Linked DNA regions of Homo sapiens: all the other regions are linked to region 2. The links come from fine-mapping of genetic effects on gene expression. A gene starts in region 2. Each other region holds a variant in brackets. All regions are shown on one strand. Distances are between the middles of the regions.

Region 1 (5,150 bases), 150 kb before region 2:
ATTGATTAAATACGAGAATTGTGTCCTTACTATCACCGATAATATACGTGCTACTAGCCAGATGTTGTGGTGCGCTGCCTGCTTTTTTTTAGGGAACTCAGCCCTCTTTGGAGAGACAATGGTACTATAAACGAAACAATTACTGACCAAGGTGACAATCCCAGTACAGACAATTCTCATGACAAACACAGGAAGGTAAATGACGAGCATCTGCTTTCCTAGTCCCACCAAACCCCAACCCCTTGCACTGTTTTTAGAGCCAGACTCACAGGGGCCAGAAAATAGACTTCCACTGTTTGCTTTTTTGATGGCCCTATTTTCTTTTTGACATTCCATAAATAAATAAATTCCAACACTATTCAGGCCATAATATATTATGGGGCTTGGAATTTGAAGTTTTTGTGTCCTCCCTCTGGCTACCATTTATAATCAGAAATACAAAGTTACATCAATTTCATACAATAAACAGAAACCCACTTTCTTTTCTTTTCCTTCATTTATCACAATAACCAGTCCTAGCTCCTTGAGAGAAGGAAAGCTGCGGAATATGAGCCATGGTCCTCACATAAAAGTTTTAGATAAGACTGGAGAATTATATAAACAAGGTCATTTTGGGGAATGAAGAATCCAAGTTATAACACATAAAGAGAGAGAAGGAAACAGATTAGAGTCCACCCCAGCCCTGTCTGGATTTCAATCTTTTAAAACGTTAAGTGTGTCCTCGGTGTTTACACTTAAAGAATCTATGAGATACTTTTACTCCCTGCTAGATGCCAAAAACCACTGGATGCTAAGGGCACTGTCTGAGGACTTATCTGGTGTTCATGCGCCCTGTGCCACACAACACTCCTCAGGGCAGCCCCCGCCTTTACCCACACTGGATGCTAATGGTTATTAGCCTGATTTCTTGCTGAAGCAGGACCACTCCATGTTCATGTCCAAATTATAATCATAAAGAACCTCATATAAAACAGCTTTTGGTATGGCTGGTACCCAAGACTTTAAAGGGATCCTCTTAGTTGAATCTTTATCATCTAAGTCTCCATAGTTACAAGATTGTGTGAGGAGGCAAAGGTCATAACGTGAAAATGTTTATGAAAGCACTGACCACTTAGAAACATCTAACCCTGCTGAATACCCCGCCCACTGCGGTCAGTCTTTGTTGGTCAACCTTTGACTGACAAGATGACAAACTTATTGTTCAAACTGAACACTTCTGAAGATGAAGGAGAGTGCTGTTAAAAATTACACGAGGTAATTAAAAATTACTCAATGTAAAAGGCATAAACTTGATTAACAAACATACATTGGGCTGTCCCTACTCACAGACTGTCATACAATGCCAACCAACTGTAAAATCCATCTTGTAAAAGACAAGATTTTAGTGGAAGCGCTGTTGGAGAACTGCTCGCACAAAACCATTGGCAAAGGAAGACTTGGCAGATTTAGCCCTTCAGTTATCAACTGAAGAAGGGATAAAGGATGAAGCCATAGGAAGTGTTTCATAATTCTCTAAACGAGATTAAGGGAGGACTTTGGGAAAACTAAGGAGTTTCCTGGCTGTTGCTTTTTACATCCTGCTGTGAAGTCTCAAGTGAAGGACTCCATGATGGAGCTATCAGATTTCTGGGCACCATGTGCACAACTGAAGCCACACCCCCATCTCTTTATCTTGCTCTATTTAATTCATAGCCCGTATTTGTACACTTACTTATGGAAAATAAGATCTGTGAGGATTGAAGACAGAGACTTCCCCTTATCCCACTGACCATATATCTCCAGTGCCTAAAGCAGCCACTGATACATTAATTGGCACTTAATAAACATTTGCTGAATAAATGAATATGTTAATAAGAAAAATAATGATCTGTCTCACAGAACTCAGTAAGATCTGATTTTTTTTTCTTTTATGAACTTGGCTCATGAAGCAGCACCATACCTGCTTCATGATTGTAACTATAAATGTTGTTAACTCTAAAATTAAAGTATTTTCCCATACTTTTTGGTTTCATTTTTAAAGACAATATCCCAATCAAATCTTTCTTTCACAATTTATTATGGAAACGGTGAAATAGATTTGGGGGCCTTTCTGATACTGAAGGTAATGAAAATTTCCTATATAAAAATCTATTTTAATACAAAGAAGAAATTCTTATTTTATAAATAAAACTCATAATGTCATTCTTCTCTGTTTCCAAACAGTAGACACCATACTCCACACTCCAAGAAACCTAGAATTCACGTCCTACGACTTCCACAACCCAATTCCAACTCCACTTTCATCAATATGTCTAAGGTGTATCTGCCCCATGGGCCTTCTGGATGTGTTCATCAATTCTGAAAAACTCTGAACTCGGAAGCTCAGTGAGCCCCAGGGTTTGGGGTAAGATATTACGGACCTGCACTTCCTCAATCACTAATGTTGCACTTCAGCCAAAAGTGCTTCCGCTCACTCTACTACTGTACTACTGTACCTGACGGCAGATGTCACCAGAGAGCCTCCCTGCCTGTGTGCATGGGGGTCCTCCCTGTCCTTTCTGGCTCAGCACATCACTGCCTCCGTTTTTAAGCATCCCCGGCCCCACTGGAAACTCTGGCAGGCTCTCCTCTACGCTCCCTCACCATTGATCTGCTTCCCTCTCAGGGCGTGTGATAATTATGGTCTATATAGGGGTGTCCAATCTTTTGGCTTCCCTAGGCCACACTGGAAGAATTGTCTTTGGCCACACATAAAATACACTAACACTAACACTAACGATAGTGCTGATGAGCTTAAAAAAAAATAAAATAAAAAAATCATGTTTTAAGAAAGTTTATGAATTGTGTTGGGCTGCATTCAAAGCCGTCCTGGGCTGCATGTAGCCCGCGGGCCATGGGTTGGACAAACTTGGTCTACCATATACCATGGCTGTGTAAAGACAGACATCCTGAGAAGAGGATTCCTGCATTCTTCTGTCTATGAAGA[C/T]ACCAATTCCTAACTTTTAAATTACTGTTGTAGAAGAATGAATGAAAAGGTAACTTCCTACCTCCCATACAAGAGCAGATACACTTTTGTATTCCAAGAACTAGGCCATGGCTCTCAAACTCTGGATAGCTTACAACAAAGTCAGAATCTCAGGCCCTATCCCTGTCTCTATATCTTTAAGCTCCTCCAGTGATTCTGATGCTAGTCTCCATAGGCCACACTTCAGGAAACTCTGAAGTAAGAAATTATTTAAACATCAGGCTGGATGCAGTGGCTCACGCCTAATCCCAGTACTTTGGGAGGCTGAGGTGGGTGGATCACTTGAGGCCAGGAGGTCGAAACCAGCCTGGCCAACATGGCAAAACCCCATTTCTACTAAAAATACAAAAATTAGCTGGCGTGGTGGTGTGCACCTGTGATCCCAGCTACTTGGGGGGCTGAGGCACAAGAATTGCTCAAACCCAGGAGGTGGAGAGGTTGCGGTAAGCCAAGATCGCACCACTGCACTCCAGCCTGGGTGACAGAGCGAGACTGTCTCAAAACAAAACAAAACAAAACAAAACAAAACAAAACAAAACAAAACTCCTCCTGTGCTCCTTTCCCTGGACAATTTCTTTAGCATTTCAGGAACTGCATTGAAAAAAAAAAATCCTCGCCTTTAATTGGAAGGTTAAATCCCCATAATTAGTTTGGCTCTTTTGGGGAGTGGGAGGGAGATGGGGAAGGATAAGGGTAGAGGAAGAGAGGACAGTGCTTTGAAACAAAAGGAGAGGCAGGGCCCAAACCTGGAGGCAGGGAAAGGGAGGGAATGGAGGGGAGGTTTTGCATTCTGAAAGTGCCTGGGAATGTAGGGTGTCCTTGTGGCAGGCTAGGGAGGCTCTGGTGCTTAAGTGTCATTCTATGTCCAAGCCTGTGCCACACAAGAGTGAGGATGCTGCCCTCAAGAGTGAGGGGCCAGGGAATCGGGCGCAGCAGTCAGCGACTGAAGATCAGACCAGGGGACCTTCCCCAACCTCTGAGCTCAGTTCAGCCCTGAGGTTTCTGTATGTTCCTGAGGGAAGAGAATGGGTCTCTGCCAAAACAGAGGCTGAGAATGAATTTCTAATTAAGTATGGTGGGTAGAACCTGAGTCCAAGATTACCATAAAAATATGGAAGCATGGCATTTCTTATATTCCACTACCACATAACAAATGCTTTCCATTTTAAAAATGATTGTATTTTTGCATCTACTATGTGCCATCCACAAAGAAGGTACTCAAAAACTTGAATAAATGGATGAATGAATGAATACTGAATGACTAGGAAAAGTCACTGTTTAATACAGCAGATTTGAAAAGAGAGAAGAAAGGACCTTTCATTGGCCTCTGGCCTCATTCAGGACTTGCGTTCTGGTCGGAAGGATAAAACTGGCATTTCTAAGTCAATACCAGAGTTTCCTTTTCAGAAGGTAAGACACCGTGGTGCAGAACTAATTACACTTTATGTAGCACTCATCTAAGTCTACTGACCATATGCTGTGGAACCATGGACTGCAGAAAGGGCTGCATTATTTCTACCATGGAGATGTCTATCTATCCATTATCATGAGCACACAAGACAGGGAGAGGAAGAGAAAGGACAGCTGGCCACCCTGTGAGGTGAAGTCTTTCCGCTTCAAGGCAGCACCTGTCAGGCTCCGAGAAAACGCAAGGTATGTATGTACTGGGCAGAATCTCCGCAGGCTCCCAACGACCCCCTGGGACCAGCGGCCCCACCAAGGGTGAGAGCTCAGCCCAGAAGGAGCCCATGTGCTCCTCTATTCTCCTTGAGGCCTCTACTCTTCTTGGCTTTGCAAAGGATGGAAGATTCCGTGAGCCCTGGCTAAGTACATTCTAACCTGGGTCTTGTGCTGTCACCTCCTTGAGTTTGGCTGTGACATAAAACAACTCTTCCTTTTTTCTTAAAAAACGAAACAAAACCACCACCACCACCAAAGTTCATACATGGAACTCTATGTCAAGACCACAGCTCTGGACCAGATCCATATGACCATCACCCGGCCTCACACACCACGCACCTAATGCTGGTTTGTGCTGGCACAGAAACTGTATACCCAAGCTCTGGTCAGAGCCCCATGGCCAGTTAATGCCATTCAGCCACTCATTCCTGCCATGCAAACGAACACTCACCATCTGTCTGCTCCC
Region 2 (5,150 bases):
CATCCGCTTCAACCCCAAGCCTCTGTACCTGCTGGCCCCTCAGCACCCCACCCCTCACGCAGGTAGTACCATCTCACCCCTCAGACTTCACATCGCTTCCTCAGTGACTTACCTTACCCCTAGACTAAGTCAAGTCCTCTGTTTGTCTCCTGCTCTTTACCTCCACAGCCTTAAACAAAATTACAATAAAATTTTTGTTGGATTTTTTTACTCCCAAGCTGAAATGTGAGCTCCGTAAGAGCAGGACTGTGCCTGTCTTGTATACCACTGTATCTCACAACCTAAAACATAGGAGCCCTCAACAAATACATGTAGGTTAATGGAATTCATAAATCAGAACACCCTAAGTTACAAAAGCAGCTTCACTGCATCAGTGGTCCTGAAGTAACTTGGTTTCTCCATCCATAAAACTAAAGAGCTCATCTGCTCAACGTTCTCTGAGTTCCTCAGAAGACCTAATATTACCTAAGTCTACAATTTTGCTATTCCAAACTCCTCTCTCACAACTCTCTTCCACATAGGCAGCAGCAAAACTTTACTTTCCAGCCTCCACAACTTTGTTTGCACCCTTCTTTCCATCTGTAATTTTTTTCCAGCTCCACATTTCCAAATCCTACTTAACCTTACATGCTCAAATCCAATGTTACCGCCTCCTCAAAGTCCTCCTTGCATCCCTCCAGCTAGCCACAACCTCTCCATCCCTGAATTCCCACAAGTTCCCTGTTGCCTCATTCAGGTCTCAGATCAAATGTCATTTCAAATGAGAACCCTCTCCAAGAGTCACCACCGGTTATAATTCTCTATCAGACCACGCTGTTTTTATTTTCTTGATAGCATTTACCATTACCTGAAATTACCATGTTTATTTCTCTCATTTATTTACTTGTTAAGTGCCTGTTGCTCCCACTAGAATGTTAAGGTCAATGAGAGCAGAGGCCCTGTCTGTCTTGTTCACATTTCCCCACTCCCCCACATCAGACATGTGTTCAGTAAGCTAAATACCTGTCAAAGGCGTGAATGACTCTGTAACCCTTATGACTAGGGTTATGTGCGCACATTATCTTTCTCTTGCTATATTCCAAACTCCCTGTGGACAAGGCCAAAGTCTGGCTAATCTGTCTGTATTATCTGGAAAATCATTGCACAACTGAAGCAAATAACGATAACTGCTAATTAATTTATTGATTTCTCCAAGAGGAACTGCCCCAAACTAAGCCAATTCAGAACTTCATATTGTCCAGAAACCAAGGCAAATAGGAATCTCCTTCCATTCCCTCTTCACCACAGACCCTATTCCAATTTGCCACCTCCAGGGAGCTTTTGCCAAAAGGCTAGTTTCCTCACTTTCCTTTAGAAGGACCACTGGTCCTTCTATCCCTAATATCTTACAATGCTACCCTTTCCCTTTTATCTCCAGCCAACAAAGCATTTCCAGGGCCCTGTTTCTTCAGAGCACCCCACATCTCCAGTGCATCGGGGAACTCATCGGGTCCTAGGGCACATGTGGATGTTAAAAGGAAGTGTTCAAGCAAACCTGGCTCGACCACCTTTCCTTGGATACCTCGTTTAGCTGAAACACGCCGAGTTTTAGAGCGATCGGCTTTGATGCTCTTTGGGTCCCTCAGCATTCTTCCCATCTAACTAACCTAAGCACCCAAATACCGTCGGGGTGCCCCCACCCTTGCCCCACACCTTTTCACCTTCCAACAGAGAAAGACCCCAGGCCAGAGACGATGATCTCCCCGGAAGCAAATGGCCCTCAAACCCCATAGGGCGGCCCTACCCTCTCCACTTTCTGTCCAGCATCTCCCTCTGACCTGGAGCCGTCTCGAACGCCCCTCAGCCCCAGCCTCTGGTTGGACCCGACCCTCCGACACCACCCGCCACTCACCTGAAGCGGCCCCCGCAGTGCTGGCATTGCTCGCCCACCCAGCCGGCGGGGCAGACGCACTGGCCGGTGCCAGGGTTGCAGCGACCGCCGTTGACACAGGGCCGGTCACATTCCTTGGCCTCGGCTGCGGCTGAGCCCGACACCGCCGCCGCCGCCGCCGCGGCCTCGGCCTCACAGGGCAGCAGCAGCAGCAGCAGCGGCGGCGAGAGCAACAACAGCAGCAGCAGCAGCCGTGGCCGCAGCGGTGGAGACAGCAGCCGCGGGAGGCGCAGCCCGGCCCCCAGCCCCGGCCTCCCAGCCCTGGTCACGTCCCAGTCCCAGTGCGGCCCGCCGCTCCTGCCCGCGAGCGCTGCCGTCGCCGCCGTCCTCCTCCTCAGCCTTGCCTCAGTTGCCGCCGCTGCAGCCACCATCTTCCCGGGGCTGAGACGGCGCCCCGCGAACACATACACACACACCGCACGGCCGGCTCCGCTTCGCCTGGCCGTGCGGGGCGGGGCTGTGCGGACGGTGGCTCGTGCGGTCCAAAGGGGCCACAGCGGGGCGGTGGGCGGGGCCGGCGCGCGCGTGCGCGAGTACGTGGGTGCGTGCGTGCGGGGGCGCAGACAGTGGTCTCCGGCGTCCGCGGCGCCGGAGGCGATCTTCTGACGTGGACCGTAGAACGAGCTGAAACCCGGCTGCGCTGTCCCGGCCGGCGAAAGCTCTAGTTTTCCCCCTTCGCCTTTCGTCCCCGGCGGCGGGGTTGCAGCCCCACTGGATGCCTAGGAGCCGACTGCGTTGAGTGTTGCCCTCCTAGAGACCCGGCACTCTGCCCTAACTCCAGCTGCCGGACGGAAAGGGTACAGGAGGCTGCATCGCAGCGAGGTGCTGGGTGCGGTACTGTAGAAGCCAGGCTTCATTCGAGCCTCTGTAACACAAGAGTCAAGAAAGAACACATGTAGAACCTGGCATAGGCCGGGCGCGGAGGCTTACGCCTGTAATCCCAGCACTTTGGGAAACTGAGGCAGGCGGATCACTTGATCTCTGGGATCCGAGACCAGCCTGGCCAACAGGGTGAGACACTGTCTCTACTAAAAATACAAAAATTAGCCGAGCATGGTGGTGCGCGCCTGTATCCCCAGCTACTCCAGAGGCTGAGGCAGGAGGATCGCTTGAGTCTGGAGAGGTCAAGGCTGCAGTGAGCCGCAGTCGCAGCACTGCACTCCAGCCTGGGCAACACAAGACCCTGTGTCAAAAAATGAAGAACCTGGCATGTAGGCTGTGCTCAGTAAATGCCTAATAAACTGAATGAAGACACACAGCCAGGCCTCTTGATAACAGATGGACTGTAGCTGACCAGACCCCCTACCTTTAATTCTGTAAAAGTTTGGAGTTACCTTGCTCCCCACAATTTGCCCTCCAACCATCTTCTCTGAAGAGTGGGCAATATAGAATTAGGAAATGGCGCTCACACAGACCTGCCCCTTCTTGTCTGGTAGTTGTTACTCTGGTGTCCCTCAATGAGACATGTCTTCCATCAATGTAGCCTTTTATGGTCCTTGACCCTGGAATCTGGGCTGGGTCATGATTGAGACCATGAGAAACCATGACTCAATTTCACCAATAGAAGAAGTTGGTAGGAGTAGCAATGTCTTGTTTCTAGCTCTGAGCTTAAAAAAGACCTGGCAGCCTTGGCCGGGCACGGTGGCTCACGTCTGTAATCCCAGCACCTTGGGAGGCCGAGGCGGGCAGATCACGAGGTCAGAAGTTCGAGACCACCCTGATCGACGTGGTGAAACCCTGTCTCTACAAAAAATACAAAAATTAGCCGGGCGTGGTGGCACACACCTGTAATCCCAGCTACTCAGGAGAGTCGCTTGAATCCAGGAGGCAGAGGTTGCAGAGAGTCGTGATCGCGCCACTGCACTCCAGCCTGGGGGACAGAGCGAGACTCTGTCTCAAAAAAAAAAAAAGACCTGGCAGCCTTGATTTTGAGCTGTTGGTGGTCATGAGCTGCACCCCGTTAGCCACCTTGCTGGAGAGAAACCATGTGCAGAGACCACTTGGACTTGGAGAGGGAGAGCTGGGCCGCTCAGCTGGTGGAGCCATCCTAGCTAAGGGATCAGTCATTGAGTGAAGAAGCTATCTGGGTTGGGTTATTCCAACCGTCTGGGCTGTTCCATGTTACCTACAACAGTAACAGGTCTTTCCTAACTGTGACTTATCCAAAATCCTAAGAAATAACTCATTTATCATTTAACCCTTAAGTGATGAATTATTTATAATTTTTCATAAATTATGATTTATGTTATTTTAAGCCTCTAAGTTTTAGAGAGGTTTGTTACTCAGTAATAGATAAGCAGAACATTGTCCGACATAATGCTTGTGCTATGAGGAATATTCCTATGGCACCTACCTCAGAATCTGGGCACCTTACAGTCCCTGGGAAACAAAGAAAAACCCTCATAGACCTGTGGAGCCTCTCAGCTTTACCTCAGAGTATGGAATTTTAAGGTTCTAAGATGGATTTCCACACTCATACCCAGGTCCCACTCTCATACTCAGGTCCTGACTGTCCTCACTGCATCTTCTTCAAGCCTGGTGAAGCTGAATTGCACAAAAGCCTTACCCCCAGCTCTACATCCACACATACTCCCCATTCCTACAGGAAAACTATTGTTCGGCCTAGGCCCTAGCACTGACATTCTGGTTTGCAGGTTATGTTTTTGCCATGTAGGATTTTGAAATTGAAGACATGGCCCTACCCTCTGGCAGGACCCCATCAGATGGGGAGGCTGGCATAGGCCATGCCCTAGCTGTAGGAGACATTGCTCCCCCTAATCTTCCAGGCCAGAAGTGAACCAGCCCTTTCCTTCCCTTCCCTCCCCACAGCAAGACTGAACCCACACTGTGAAGTTTCACATGATTTTACCAACATTCAGGGATAACAGAAAAGGTGTGCATCTGAAGAACAGCAATCCCTAGACTAGATATTGCTACTCTGAAGCCTTAGAATCTTGCTGCAGCAAACATTCTTTCTTACTTCCTTAATCTACTCTCTTCTCTGGTTCTTTTTCCTTAGCTTTCAAACATGCTCAAATTATTTTGTCCTTAAAAAACAAACACGCTGGGTGCAGTGGCTCATGCCTGTAATCCCAGTGCTTTGGGAGGCCAAGGTGGGAGGATCACCTGAGGCCAGGAGTTTGAGACCAGCCTGGACAACATAGTGAGACCTTGTCTCTACAAAAAATTTTTTAAAAAATTAGTCAGATGTGGTGGCGTG
Region 3 (5,150 bases), 35 kb after region 2:
TTAAATTTTTTGTAGAGATGGGGTCTCTCTATGTTGCCTAGCCTGGTCTCAAACTCCTGGCCTCAAGGAATCCTCCCACCTAAGCCTCCCAAAGTGCTGAGATTACAGGCGTGAGCCACTGTGCCCAGCCTGTGTGGATATTTTTTAATTAATTCATTGTTCTAGGTTCCTGGTAAGACCTTTCAATGCAGAAACTTGTGACTTTGTGTTAGGGAAGCAGGAGCCTAGAAGAGCCAAATTAAAAGTTCAGCTCCATCTGGAGACTAACAGGGCACATTCCTTGCCAGTCACTACCCATGATTACAGATGTTTATAGTTGAGGAAAGACCATAAAGACACCTACGAGGACGCACTCCTCCGTCAGAGAGTTCAGATGTCCCAGTACCCATAAAAACACATGCTTTCAAGATAATAACAGTTATGGCAGGGTATGGTGGCTCACACCTGTAATCCCAGCACTTTGGGAGGCTGAGGAGGGCAGATCACTTGAGGTCAGGAGTTTGAGACCAACCTGGCCAACATGGTGAAACCTTGTCTCTACTAAAAATACAAAAATCAGCTTGGCATGGTGGCATGCACCTGTAATCCCAGGTACTCGGAAGGCTGAGGCGGGAGAATCGTTTGAATCTGGGAGGCAGAGGTTGCAGTGAGCCGAGATTGCACCACTGCACTCCAGCCTGGGCGACAGAGCAGGACTCCATCTCAAAGATAAAAAAAGAGAAGAAAGATAATAACAGTTATGCTCTGATGGACTCACACACTGAAATGTCAAAGAGGCCGGGCATGGTGGCTCAAGCCTGTAATCTCAGCACTTTGGGAGGCCGAGGCGGGCAGATCACGAGGTCAGATCGAAACCATCCTGGCTAACACGGTGAAACCCCATCTTTACTAAAAATACAAAAAATTAGCCGGACGTGGTGGCGGGCGCCTGTAGTCCCAGCTACTCGGGAGGCTGAGGCAGGAGAATGGCGTGAACCCGGGAGGCGGAGCTTGCAGTGAGCCGAGATTGCGCCAGTGCACTCCAGCCTGGGCGACAGAGCGAGACTCCGTCTCAAAAAAAAAAAAAGAAAAACTCTGTGTGTGTGTGTGTGTGTGTGTGTGTGTGTGTGTGTGTGTGTGTGTACCCTCGTGTGCTCGCACAAACGAACAGAGCTAGAGTTAAAGGAATTCCAAGGACAATTTGCTGGGTAAAATTCAAGACTGATTAATTTTCCACAGGGCAATAAAATCATTGTATTTAACCACACAACCAGGCTATAAAAACATAGAACCTATTAGTCTCTAAAGTTAAACTATACCAGGCTATAAAAACATAGAACCTATTAGTCTCTAAAGTTAAACTGTAACTTTATAGAACCATAAAACTGTCTGTTTCTTCAATCATTATGGATTGATTACATACATTGTGGCAATGGAATTTCATTCCCCTGGTGTGTCCCATGAGGGTAAATTCCCAGGATGCAGGTTCTGCTTTTATTGAAACAGGGTTTGAAAAAGTGTTCCCCTAAGATCTCAGGAATTAGGCAATCATAATTTTGCCATTTTCCCAAGTGTGGAATCATTTCCTCTTTAATACCTGTGTCAGGTGAGAATGTCTGAAATATGTGTTTTGTTTGGTTTTTTGAGACAGGGTCTCACTCTGTTGCCCAGGCTGGAGTGCAGCAGCGTGTTCATGGCTCACTGCAGCCTTGACCTCTCAGGCACAAGCTATCATCCCATCTCAGCCTCCTGAGTAGCTGGGACCACAGGTGTGTGCCACCACGCCTGGCTCATTTTTGTAATTTTTTTTTTTTTTTTGGTAGAGATGGGGTTTCACCATGTTGTCCAGGCTGGTCTCAAACTCCCAAGCTCAAGCAATCCACCTGCCTCAGCCTCCCAAAATACTGAGATTACAGGCCTGAGCCACCATGCCTGGCCTAGAACATCTGAAATATTTATTCTCGACATCACTAGCTCAATCTTGTTTCAATGTCTGTTCTTTTTGTCCTTGTGAGTTTTGTCCTTTTTATTTTTTAACTGTTATTTTAGTGAGGTTTGGAGAGGACGTAGGCCCAAATGCATGGACTCAATTCCCCACTTTTAAAAAATTTTTATTTTATATTATTTTTTGGTAGAGACAGGGTCTCACTATGTTGCCCAGGCTGGTCTTAAACTTCTGGCCTCAATCAATCCTTCTGCCTCAGCCTCCCAAATTGTTAGGATTACAGGTGTGAGCCAACAAGCCTGGCCCAGTTCTGCTTTTTTGATCCCACATTTCCTCCTGCTCTCTATTGTCCAGGACTTTCATCAAATGCCTGGCCTTTTGGCTTTTCAGTTTCCTGATGCTGCTGTAGATGTATTACTTTCCCTCTTTCATGTCTTTTCTACATTTCACCAGGAGTGTTCAGCAAGAGTGACAGTGTGCACTTGTGTGCTTTATACACTCCCTTGATCCAGGTCTTTTCCTGACTATATCAACACTTGGTTCCAAATAGCAAAGAGCTCTCCATCTTTGGGGATAGAAGCAAACTGTTCCTATTACTCAGAAAAACCATTGCTGTAATGTTGCAAGAATTA[A/G]TAGGTATCTTGTCTGCTATAGTCTTCCCAAGGCAGGAAAAAAACCATAAGCATCTCCTTTCCAGCCCTGACCTCTCCATTTCTTCCTCACCCCCTTCCACCTCCAGAAGATGCATCTTCGTTTGCTGGCATTCTGGCCTTCTTTGCCTCAGAGGATGCCCTTGTCAAGTTCTAGCTGTATTGCCTGGTGGGTGTGAAACCACTCTTAACATAAACTCCTCAGCTGGTCCTTGGCAAGGGCTTTTCCTCAACTTTTCAGATTTAGTGGGTGTTTCAGATTTTAGTTTAGTGGTAGTTATATATGCAGAATCCCAGGCCCCACTGGAGGAGAGGGAGAAGGTGGCTTGCAATCTACATTTTTATGGAGGCCCTCATGTCAAAATCTGGGACAATCTCAGCCTCATATGAATAATGCAGGAATGGATTATTATATATTGAATCAAAAGGAATCCATGTGTCTCTATTGATATTAACACCAAAAATTTTGGCCTGTGCTCACACCTGTAATCGCAGCACTTTGGGAGGCCAAAGCAGGAGTATCAGTTGAGCCCAAGAGTTCGAGGTTACAGTGAGCTATGATCATGTCACTGTACTTCAACCTGGGTAACAGAGAGAGACTCTGTCTCAAAACAACAACCACCACAATAAATAAATAAAACAACCAACAATGGTATTTTATTTTATTATTATTTTTCTTAATAGAGACAAGATCCTGCTATGTTGCCCAGGCTGGTCTCGAACTTATGGGCTCAAGCAATCCTCCCACCTCAGCCTCCCAAAATGTTGGGATTACAGGCGTGAGCCACTGCACCTGGCCAACACCAAAAATTTTAAAGGGGGTAGAAAAGAGGGCCAGGTGAGGTGGCTCACACCCGTAATCCCAGCACTTTGGGAGGCTGAGGTGGGTGGATCACTTGAGGTCAGGAGTTCAAGACCAGCCTGGCCAACATGGCAAAAACCCATCTCTACTAAAAATACAAAAATTAGCCAGGCGTCCTGATGCCCATCTGTAATCACAGCCACTTGGGAGGCTGAGGCAGGAGAATTGCTTGAACTTGGAAGTCAGAGGTTGCAGTGAACCAAGATGGCATCACTGCACTCCAGACTGGGCAAGAAAGTGAGACTCCATCTCAAAAAAAAAAAAGAAAAGAAAGCTCTTCTTCATAAAAGAATGCCAAATTGTGAATGTAGATGGAATGATAGAAATGGAAAAATCATCATTTTATGACCAGTCTATTAATAATTGATTCAGGCAGGCATCATCAATGGAATGTAAAACTATTAGGATAAAGGGGGTTGGGAAAAATGATATTCATAAGGTTTGAATGTATCACCCTACAGGCTGTTTAGTAATCGCAAAAGGGAAAACGTATCTTTACCACAGAGAGAGCTGAAGGTCACCACGTTGACCATCAGATTACACTTAGCATCACCATCAACGTGAAAATTGACTGGTGTGTTGCACTGAGAAGACACAACATCACTTAATGTTTCTACCAATAATCTAAACCCAGATTTATTTTTAAGAAAATCAGGTTGGCCAGGTGCGGTGCCTTATGCCTGTAATCCCAGCTACCTGGGGAGGCAGGAGAACCGCTTGAACCCATGAGGCAGAGGTTGCAGTGAGCCGAGGTTGCGCCACTACACTCCAGTCTGGGCCACAGAGCGAGACTCCGTCTCAAAAAAAAAAAGAAAGAAAGAAAGAAAGAAAATCAGGCCGTTATGATGTCATCTTGATTTTAAATACAAAGGCTTAGTCAGTGCACATGATCAACACTTTGAACTTTCAGTTCCCTTCTACCACAGCCTCCTATATGTTCTAGAAGTGTCTAAGGGAGACTCTTGTGCAGTGCTCTCAGAATCTTCCATTCTCCCTCTGGAAATGTCACCTGCCAGGCCTCTGTTGTATGAAAAGAGTTAGCATGGCCTCTTATGTTTTTGCAAAGTGCTTCCAATGCCAAGGTTACTCTATGCTGAAATATGCCTTGAAGCCACTTTCTTACATTATGATCCCAAAGGGACCACTTTAGACTTCCAGCATCTCACCAAGATTTTTATGTGACCATCATCCAGTTTATGTCATTAGTCCTTAGGACTGAGAAGTGGGTCCAGGGTGGCTTACAGGGGAAAGTGGCTTAGTCAGTATTGTCTTGCTGGTCTTGCTCTCTGGGGCATGGGATTCTTATTCCAAGCACCCATCCAGTCACGTAGCTCACGCTGGAACTCTCATCAGCCCATTGATATCTTGGAGTTTAACACAAGGAAGTATTGCACAAGACAAGCCAGAGACCCATGGACATAATGGCTGCCAAAGCAGAGAAGGGGAGGTGACAGATTTAGGAGACAGCAGCCGCCCTCACCCTCACTGTCCTCTCTGTTCCTCCTCTTTCCTTGGAAAACAGGCCTTCCTGGGGACCTCCTGCTCCCCTCAGTTATCCAGACTCTACCTGTCTTTTGTTTATACTAATGATAGCATGCTAGGTACAGTGTTCTCCATCTTGCTTTTTTCATTTAATATTTTTTTTTTTGAGACAGGATCTTGTTCTGTCACCAGGGCTGGGGTGCAATGGCACCAACACAACCCACTGTAGCCT
Region 4 (5,150 bases), 690 kb before region 2:
CACACACTGTGCCAGGCACTTGGGGCTGGCAGGAGTCATCTCAAGGCCTGATGGTTCACTCCAGCTTCACTGCCAAAGCCTGGGGCTGCCACCGGGAAGCTACCTGCTTTCTGGCCTGGGCGCTTAGTGGGGTCCCTGCAGGTCACCCTGGTCTCCCTGCCCCATGCAGCTGGATTAGGCTTGCCAGGCACTAAACTAGCCAGGCCTCAGTCCTTCACCCTCGATCTCCTCCTCCATAAATAGGGCCAGGGACAAGTTCTAATTGCATTGGCCAGCACAAAAGAAAATTCAAAAAGCAAGTAACTCATAACTGCCTCTAGACGGTCCTCGATCACTGGCCCGAGACCTTCCCCTCCTGGTGACTTCAGGGTACATTAACTGTGCTCTCCTAAGAAGACCACAGGATTAACCAATAAAGCACTTTCCATAGAATTCAACCATGAAGCACAGTCCCCCACCCACGCGAGGGCTGGAACCAGGTCTCAAAAGCCACTGGGGTTCATTTCAGAATGCACACAGGGGCCATGCGCCCATGATTTCATCCATAAGACCCCTATGAAGTGGAGACGCTGAGTTTGGACATAAACATATTCTTTAGGCCCTTTTGTGGAGTTCAAAGAGAGAATAACTCACTAGCTTTTGAAGCATCAAGAAAGGTCTGTTCTTAAAATCCTATCATCATTGTTATCACTCTATTTTTAGCTGAATACACCTGAGATACAGAGTGCAGTGCCAAGCATTTTGTGTGGAATACCTCAATCCTCACATCAATACCCCCATAGTACAGAGGAGGCAACTGAGATTCAGAGAGGTTCCACAGCCTGCTATCAGCCTGCCTCTAAATTTTACTTAGTAATATATTAAGCCTCAGGCCTTGCTCTTTTTAAAATCTAATGAAGAAGCAGCTGGGCGCAGTGGCTCACACCTGTAATCTCAGCACTTTGGGAGGTCGAAGTGGGCGGATCACTTGAAGTCAGGAGTTTGAGACCAGCCTGGCCAACATAGTGAAACCCCGTCTCCACTAAAAATACCAAAATTAGCCGGGCGTGGTGGCAGGCACCTGTAATCCTAGCTACTTGGGAGGCTAAGGCAGGAGAATCGCTTGAACCCAGGGGGCAGAGGTTGCAGTGAGCCAAGATCGCGCCATTGCACTCCAAGAGTGAAACTCTGTCTCAAAAACAAAAAAAAATCTAATGAAGAAGTCAAGTTCATTATCTTTCCTTGAGTTACTTTTTAAACTCCAAACCTTTTCAGATTAACTCTCAAGGTTTTGCATTGTGTATGATTTTTTTTTTTTAATTTTCCAAAATAAGAGAGAGTAAAAGGTCCCTGTGTGTTTAACATTTAAAGGCATCATTTAAAAATATTTCCTAAGAATATATGCCCCTTGGTGGTGCTGGGTGTCTCCTGCTTGAGTCATCCTAAAATCTAGCCAACTCAGCCTGCAAGGAGTATCACCACCACCCGCCAGGATCAGAGGTGCGCTGGCTGAGCTGGGCTGTCCCGGAGATCTGGTTATGGGTGGGGAGCAGTTGAAGGTATGAGGACAGGCTCTGAGAGAGCCATGGGGTTGACGAAAGGGCATCGAGACAGATGTCCCAGAAACTGAGTGAGACCCATCATGCCTCACTCAGGCCCCCGGGGCTGCATGGGGAAGACAGGACCCATGTGTCTGCCAGGGCCTAGCACAGAGTTGGCAGGGGTGGCTAGATTCTTTGTTCTGTTTTCTAATAAATTGCAACTCACTTCCAAGTTCTTGTTCTTCTGACTTTAAGTCACACCTTCCTTAATGCCGTCCCTCAAGAAGCAGGTGGAGAAGAAGGGAATCTGGACTAAGGGGTGCTGCAATGCCCCCAGCTAGGCCACCATGCTCCACCTGAATCCAGATGCTTTTCCTCATCCTCCAACCTCCCAGCCCCAGATTTAGAGAGCACTGGGCTCCTACATGCTTGAGGAAGAAAGACAAAGGGGCAAAGGAGGACAAGAGAGGGGAGCTAGGGCTGGGTAGGAAAATCCACTGAGCATGCCCCACCAGGGCCTTCGGGTCAGGTCGGAGGGCCAATGTTGCCCCACGCACCACCGTAGCTCCTCCTGGGTATTTAAAATACCACACCCCGACCGGCGCTGTGGCTCACACCTGT[C/A]ATCCCAGCACTTTGGGAGGCCAAGGCGGGCGGATCACGAGGTCAGGAGATCGAGACCATCCTGGCTAACAAGGTGAAACACCATCTCTACTAAAAATACAAAAAATTAGCCGGGCGTGGTGGCGGGCGCCTGTAGTCCCAGCTACTCGGGAGGCTGAGGCAGGAGAATGGCGTGAACCCGGGAGGCGGAGGTTGCAGTGAGCCGAGATCGCGCCGCTGCACTCCAGCCTGGGCGACAGAGCGAGACTCCAACTCAAAAAAAATAAAAAATAAAAAATACCACAGCCCATCTCCCCCACCTGAGCTGCTGAACAAAGAGCCTCACACCACAGAGGAAAGGAGGTGTGGCAGAGGCGAGGCAGGGTAGCCTCACTGACTGCCCTGAGAGTCTGAGAATGAGGGTCACGTCCGCAACTTGGCCCCTCCCCCAGCTTCATGTCCATGAAGGGGCACAGCACCGCCCCCTCCCACAGCCCACCATCACTCACACCCTGCCTCATGTCTCACTAATGCACTGCTCTGATCACATCACTGCCCTGCTCAAAACCTTCTGTGGGCTGCCACAGCCCAGTGAACGAAGGTAGTCCCTGATGCCTCCTCCCTGCCCGCAGGCCACTTGTCCCCTACACACACCCACCAGGATCCTCTGACTCTCAGACTCAAACCTGTGACTTCTCATTCTGTCCAGATCTCCCCACCTAACTGGCCATTCCTCCAGGAAGCCAGTCCTGCTAGCTACCCACACCCTCTTTCTTCTCCTCTGCAGGCTACTCTGGTCTAACCAGGACCCCAACCTAAGCCTTGTGCCGCTTTCTGCTGGCTCTTGCTTTCTTCCCTCATGTCCACGATGACAGGGCCCTCCCCAGGGTCCCTCCTCCAGCCATGTCAAATCCAGTAGTAAGAGCAGCCAACCGGTATTAGAGTGTCACAACAACCCAGCCACCCTAGGAGGGAGGTAATATTACCCTCATGGTACAAATGAGGGAACGGAGGCACAGAGAGGCTTAGCTTATTGTCCAGAGTTCACAACCCTGCTGTGTTAACCTCTGAGATGAAAGGCTGGGGAGAACTTGCAAAGCGAGGAAATGCCCGGGAGGTATAAGGAAAAGGCCCTCTCAGAATCCAGAAGATGGCCGGGCACAGCGGCTCACATCTGTAATCCTAGCACTTTGGGAGGCCAAGGTGAGCAGATCACCTGAGGCCAGGAGTTCCAGACCAGCCTGGGCAACACGGTGAAACCCCACCTCTACTAAAAACACAAAAATTAGCAGGGCGTGGTGGTGAGCGCCTGTAATCCCAGCTACTCGGGAGGCTGAGGCAAGAGAATTGCTTGAACCCAGGAGGTGGAGGTTGCAATGAGCTGAGATTGCGCCACTGCACTCCAGCCTGCGTGACAGAGTGAGGCTCCATCTCAAAAAAAAGAAAAAGAATCCAGAAGACCCAGGCCCAGCTACCTGGGGATCCCAGGCACCAGACAGGTCCTTCCAGATCCTTCCTCATTCACCCAGTGAGGCAGAGCCATTGCCACAAGAACCCAGGGCTGGCTCTCGGCCCAGAAATACCAGGGAGAAAAGGAAGGATGGCAGGGAGCTTCCTGGTAGAGGTGGGATGGGCACATCTGAGGGCCCTGGTCAGTTGAGGTCCCACCAGGCACTGGCAGGGGGGTAGCAGTTGCTACACCCAAAGGAAGGTGGGGAGGCAGACATGGGGGGCAAAGATTTACAGATGAAGAAACTGAGGCCTCAGAGGGGAGCCTGGCATCTCTCTCTCTGCAGTGCCCTCTTCTTCTACTGATTGTCCAAATGTGCCCATCCCACCAAGTCTACCTCTACCAGGAAGTCCACCTGTGCTACCATGTTCGTGGCCTTCCAGTGAGCAGCATCTTTCCACATCAGCTTTTCCCAGCAGGTGTTTTCCTGGTGGGTGGGACATTATTGGCAGTCATTTAAAAAAAAGATTTCCACGGTCAGATCAGGCTGGGAAACACTAAACAGTTTCTTTTCTACAGGACTTGTCAGGACCTTTAATTCTCTTAAATGTATTCTGAATCTCCCGTAGGGTAGTGGAGTGAATTTGCCAGTTTCTACCCTTATTTGTCCCCTGAACGCTTGAGATTGCGCAGAACAGTCTTTGAGAAATGTTATCCCCTCCCATCCCGCAGGACGGCCTGGCCCAGGGGCAGGGATCAAAGTGGGGTGTGATTGGCTTGGCCTTGCCCTCCTTTGAGGAGGTGTGTGTGGGATATCTGGGGAGCTCAGACTGAGAGCCAGTCAACCCCTACCCTGCCAGCCCCTCATGGCACTGCCCAGGGCAGTGGAACCTTTGCCCTTTGTGTCTGCCCTCTGTACCTTCTTTTGGGTGTAGTGACTGCTACCCCGCTTCCAGCAACTGGGGGGACTCAACCCACCAGTGTCCTCAGATACGCACCCCAGGCCATGTAGAGCCTGAGGTGCAAGGGGCCTTGGGAGACCCCCAAAACAACCCGGATGGTTTTTTCCAAGCAAATTGCTAATTCGACCCCATCATTAGCATGTGAGTTTTAATATTAACTTTAATATTTAATATTAAACTAAAATGTGTTAAGCTGACTCTCTGGGAAGAGGCAATGCCCCACCCAGCAAACCGTGTGATAACCCCCCTGGAGGGACCTGAACCCCTCAGTTTACAGATGAGGAGACTGACACCTCAGAGAGGAGCAGACACTTGCCTGTAGTGGCCCAGCCAGGGCAGAGCAGAGAGAAGCATCCAGGCCCCCCCCACTCCCACGTACGCCGCAGAGGTGGCCAGAGTGGGATAAGACCCCCGACAGCAGCTCATGTAACCATCAGTGACAGCAGCTCACGTAACCATCAGCGGCAGCAACAAGGACTTGGGCCAGGGTGACAGGCACTGCACACGCTGGGGTGATGGCCCGGCAGCTGGGGAGACTACCGTCTTCTATGAGGACACGTCACAGCTGGAGCTAGAGGGCCGGATCAGCTGTTTCCCCAATCTCTCGGCCCCGCCCTG

Direction of the effects. Positions count from the first base shown, and alleles are read on the strand shown. Sizes are in standard deviations (SD) of each study's normalised expression. Not every link is listed here.
As copies of A replace C in region 4, the expression in cerebellar hemisphere of the gene that starts at base 2,391 in region 2 goes up (large effect, 1.1 SD a copy in GTEx).

What was found.
Region 1: its variant is fine-mapped to the expression of ATRN in whole blood (INTERVAL, PIP above 0.99).
Region 3: its variant is fine-mapped to the expression of ATRN in whole blood (TOPMed, PIP above 0.99).
Region 4: its variant is fine-mapped to the expression of ATRN in cerebellar hemisphere (GTEx, PIP above 0.99).

What each region holds. Positions count from the first base shown.
Region 1 is chr20:3,618,618-3,623,767 of GRCh38, reverse strand. All of the region lies in intron 24 of ATRN (attractin), which reads right to left. Among named protein-coding and RNA genes, the nearest start is that of GFRA4, 42 kb to the left of the region's middle. RefSeq lists a silencer at 2,575-2,774. The variant C/T (reference allele first, on the strand shown) is at 2,966.
Region 2 is chr20:3,468,259-3,473,408 of GRCh38, reverse strand. ATRN (attractin) reads right to left here and starts at 2,391. Exons shown (of 29, transcript NM_139321.3): 1 at 1,892-2,391. The coding sequence starts at 2,301. RefSeq lists a silencer at 2,005-2,564 and an enhancer at 2,665-2,804.
Region 3 is chr20:3,433,605-3,438,754 of GRCh38, reverse strand. No RefSeq gene overlaps it. Among named protein-coding and RNA genes, the nearest start is that of DNAAF9, 29 kb to the right of the region's middle. The variant A/G (reference allele first, on the strand shown) is at 2,557.
Region 4 is chr20:4,155,165-4,160,314 of GRCh38, reverse strand. The region is part of intron 1 of SMOX (spermine oxidase); the gene reads right to left. LOC124904861 (a long non-coding RNA gene) reads left to right here. Exons shown (of 2, transcript XR_007067504.1): 2 at 1-1,752. Among named protein-coding and RNA genes, the nearest start is that of SMOX, 8.9 kb to the right of the region's middle. RefSeq lists enhancers at 2,178-2,678, 4,207-4,376 and a cis regulatory region at 4,291. The variant C/A (reference allele first, on the strand shown) is at 2,142.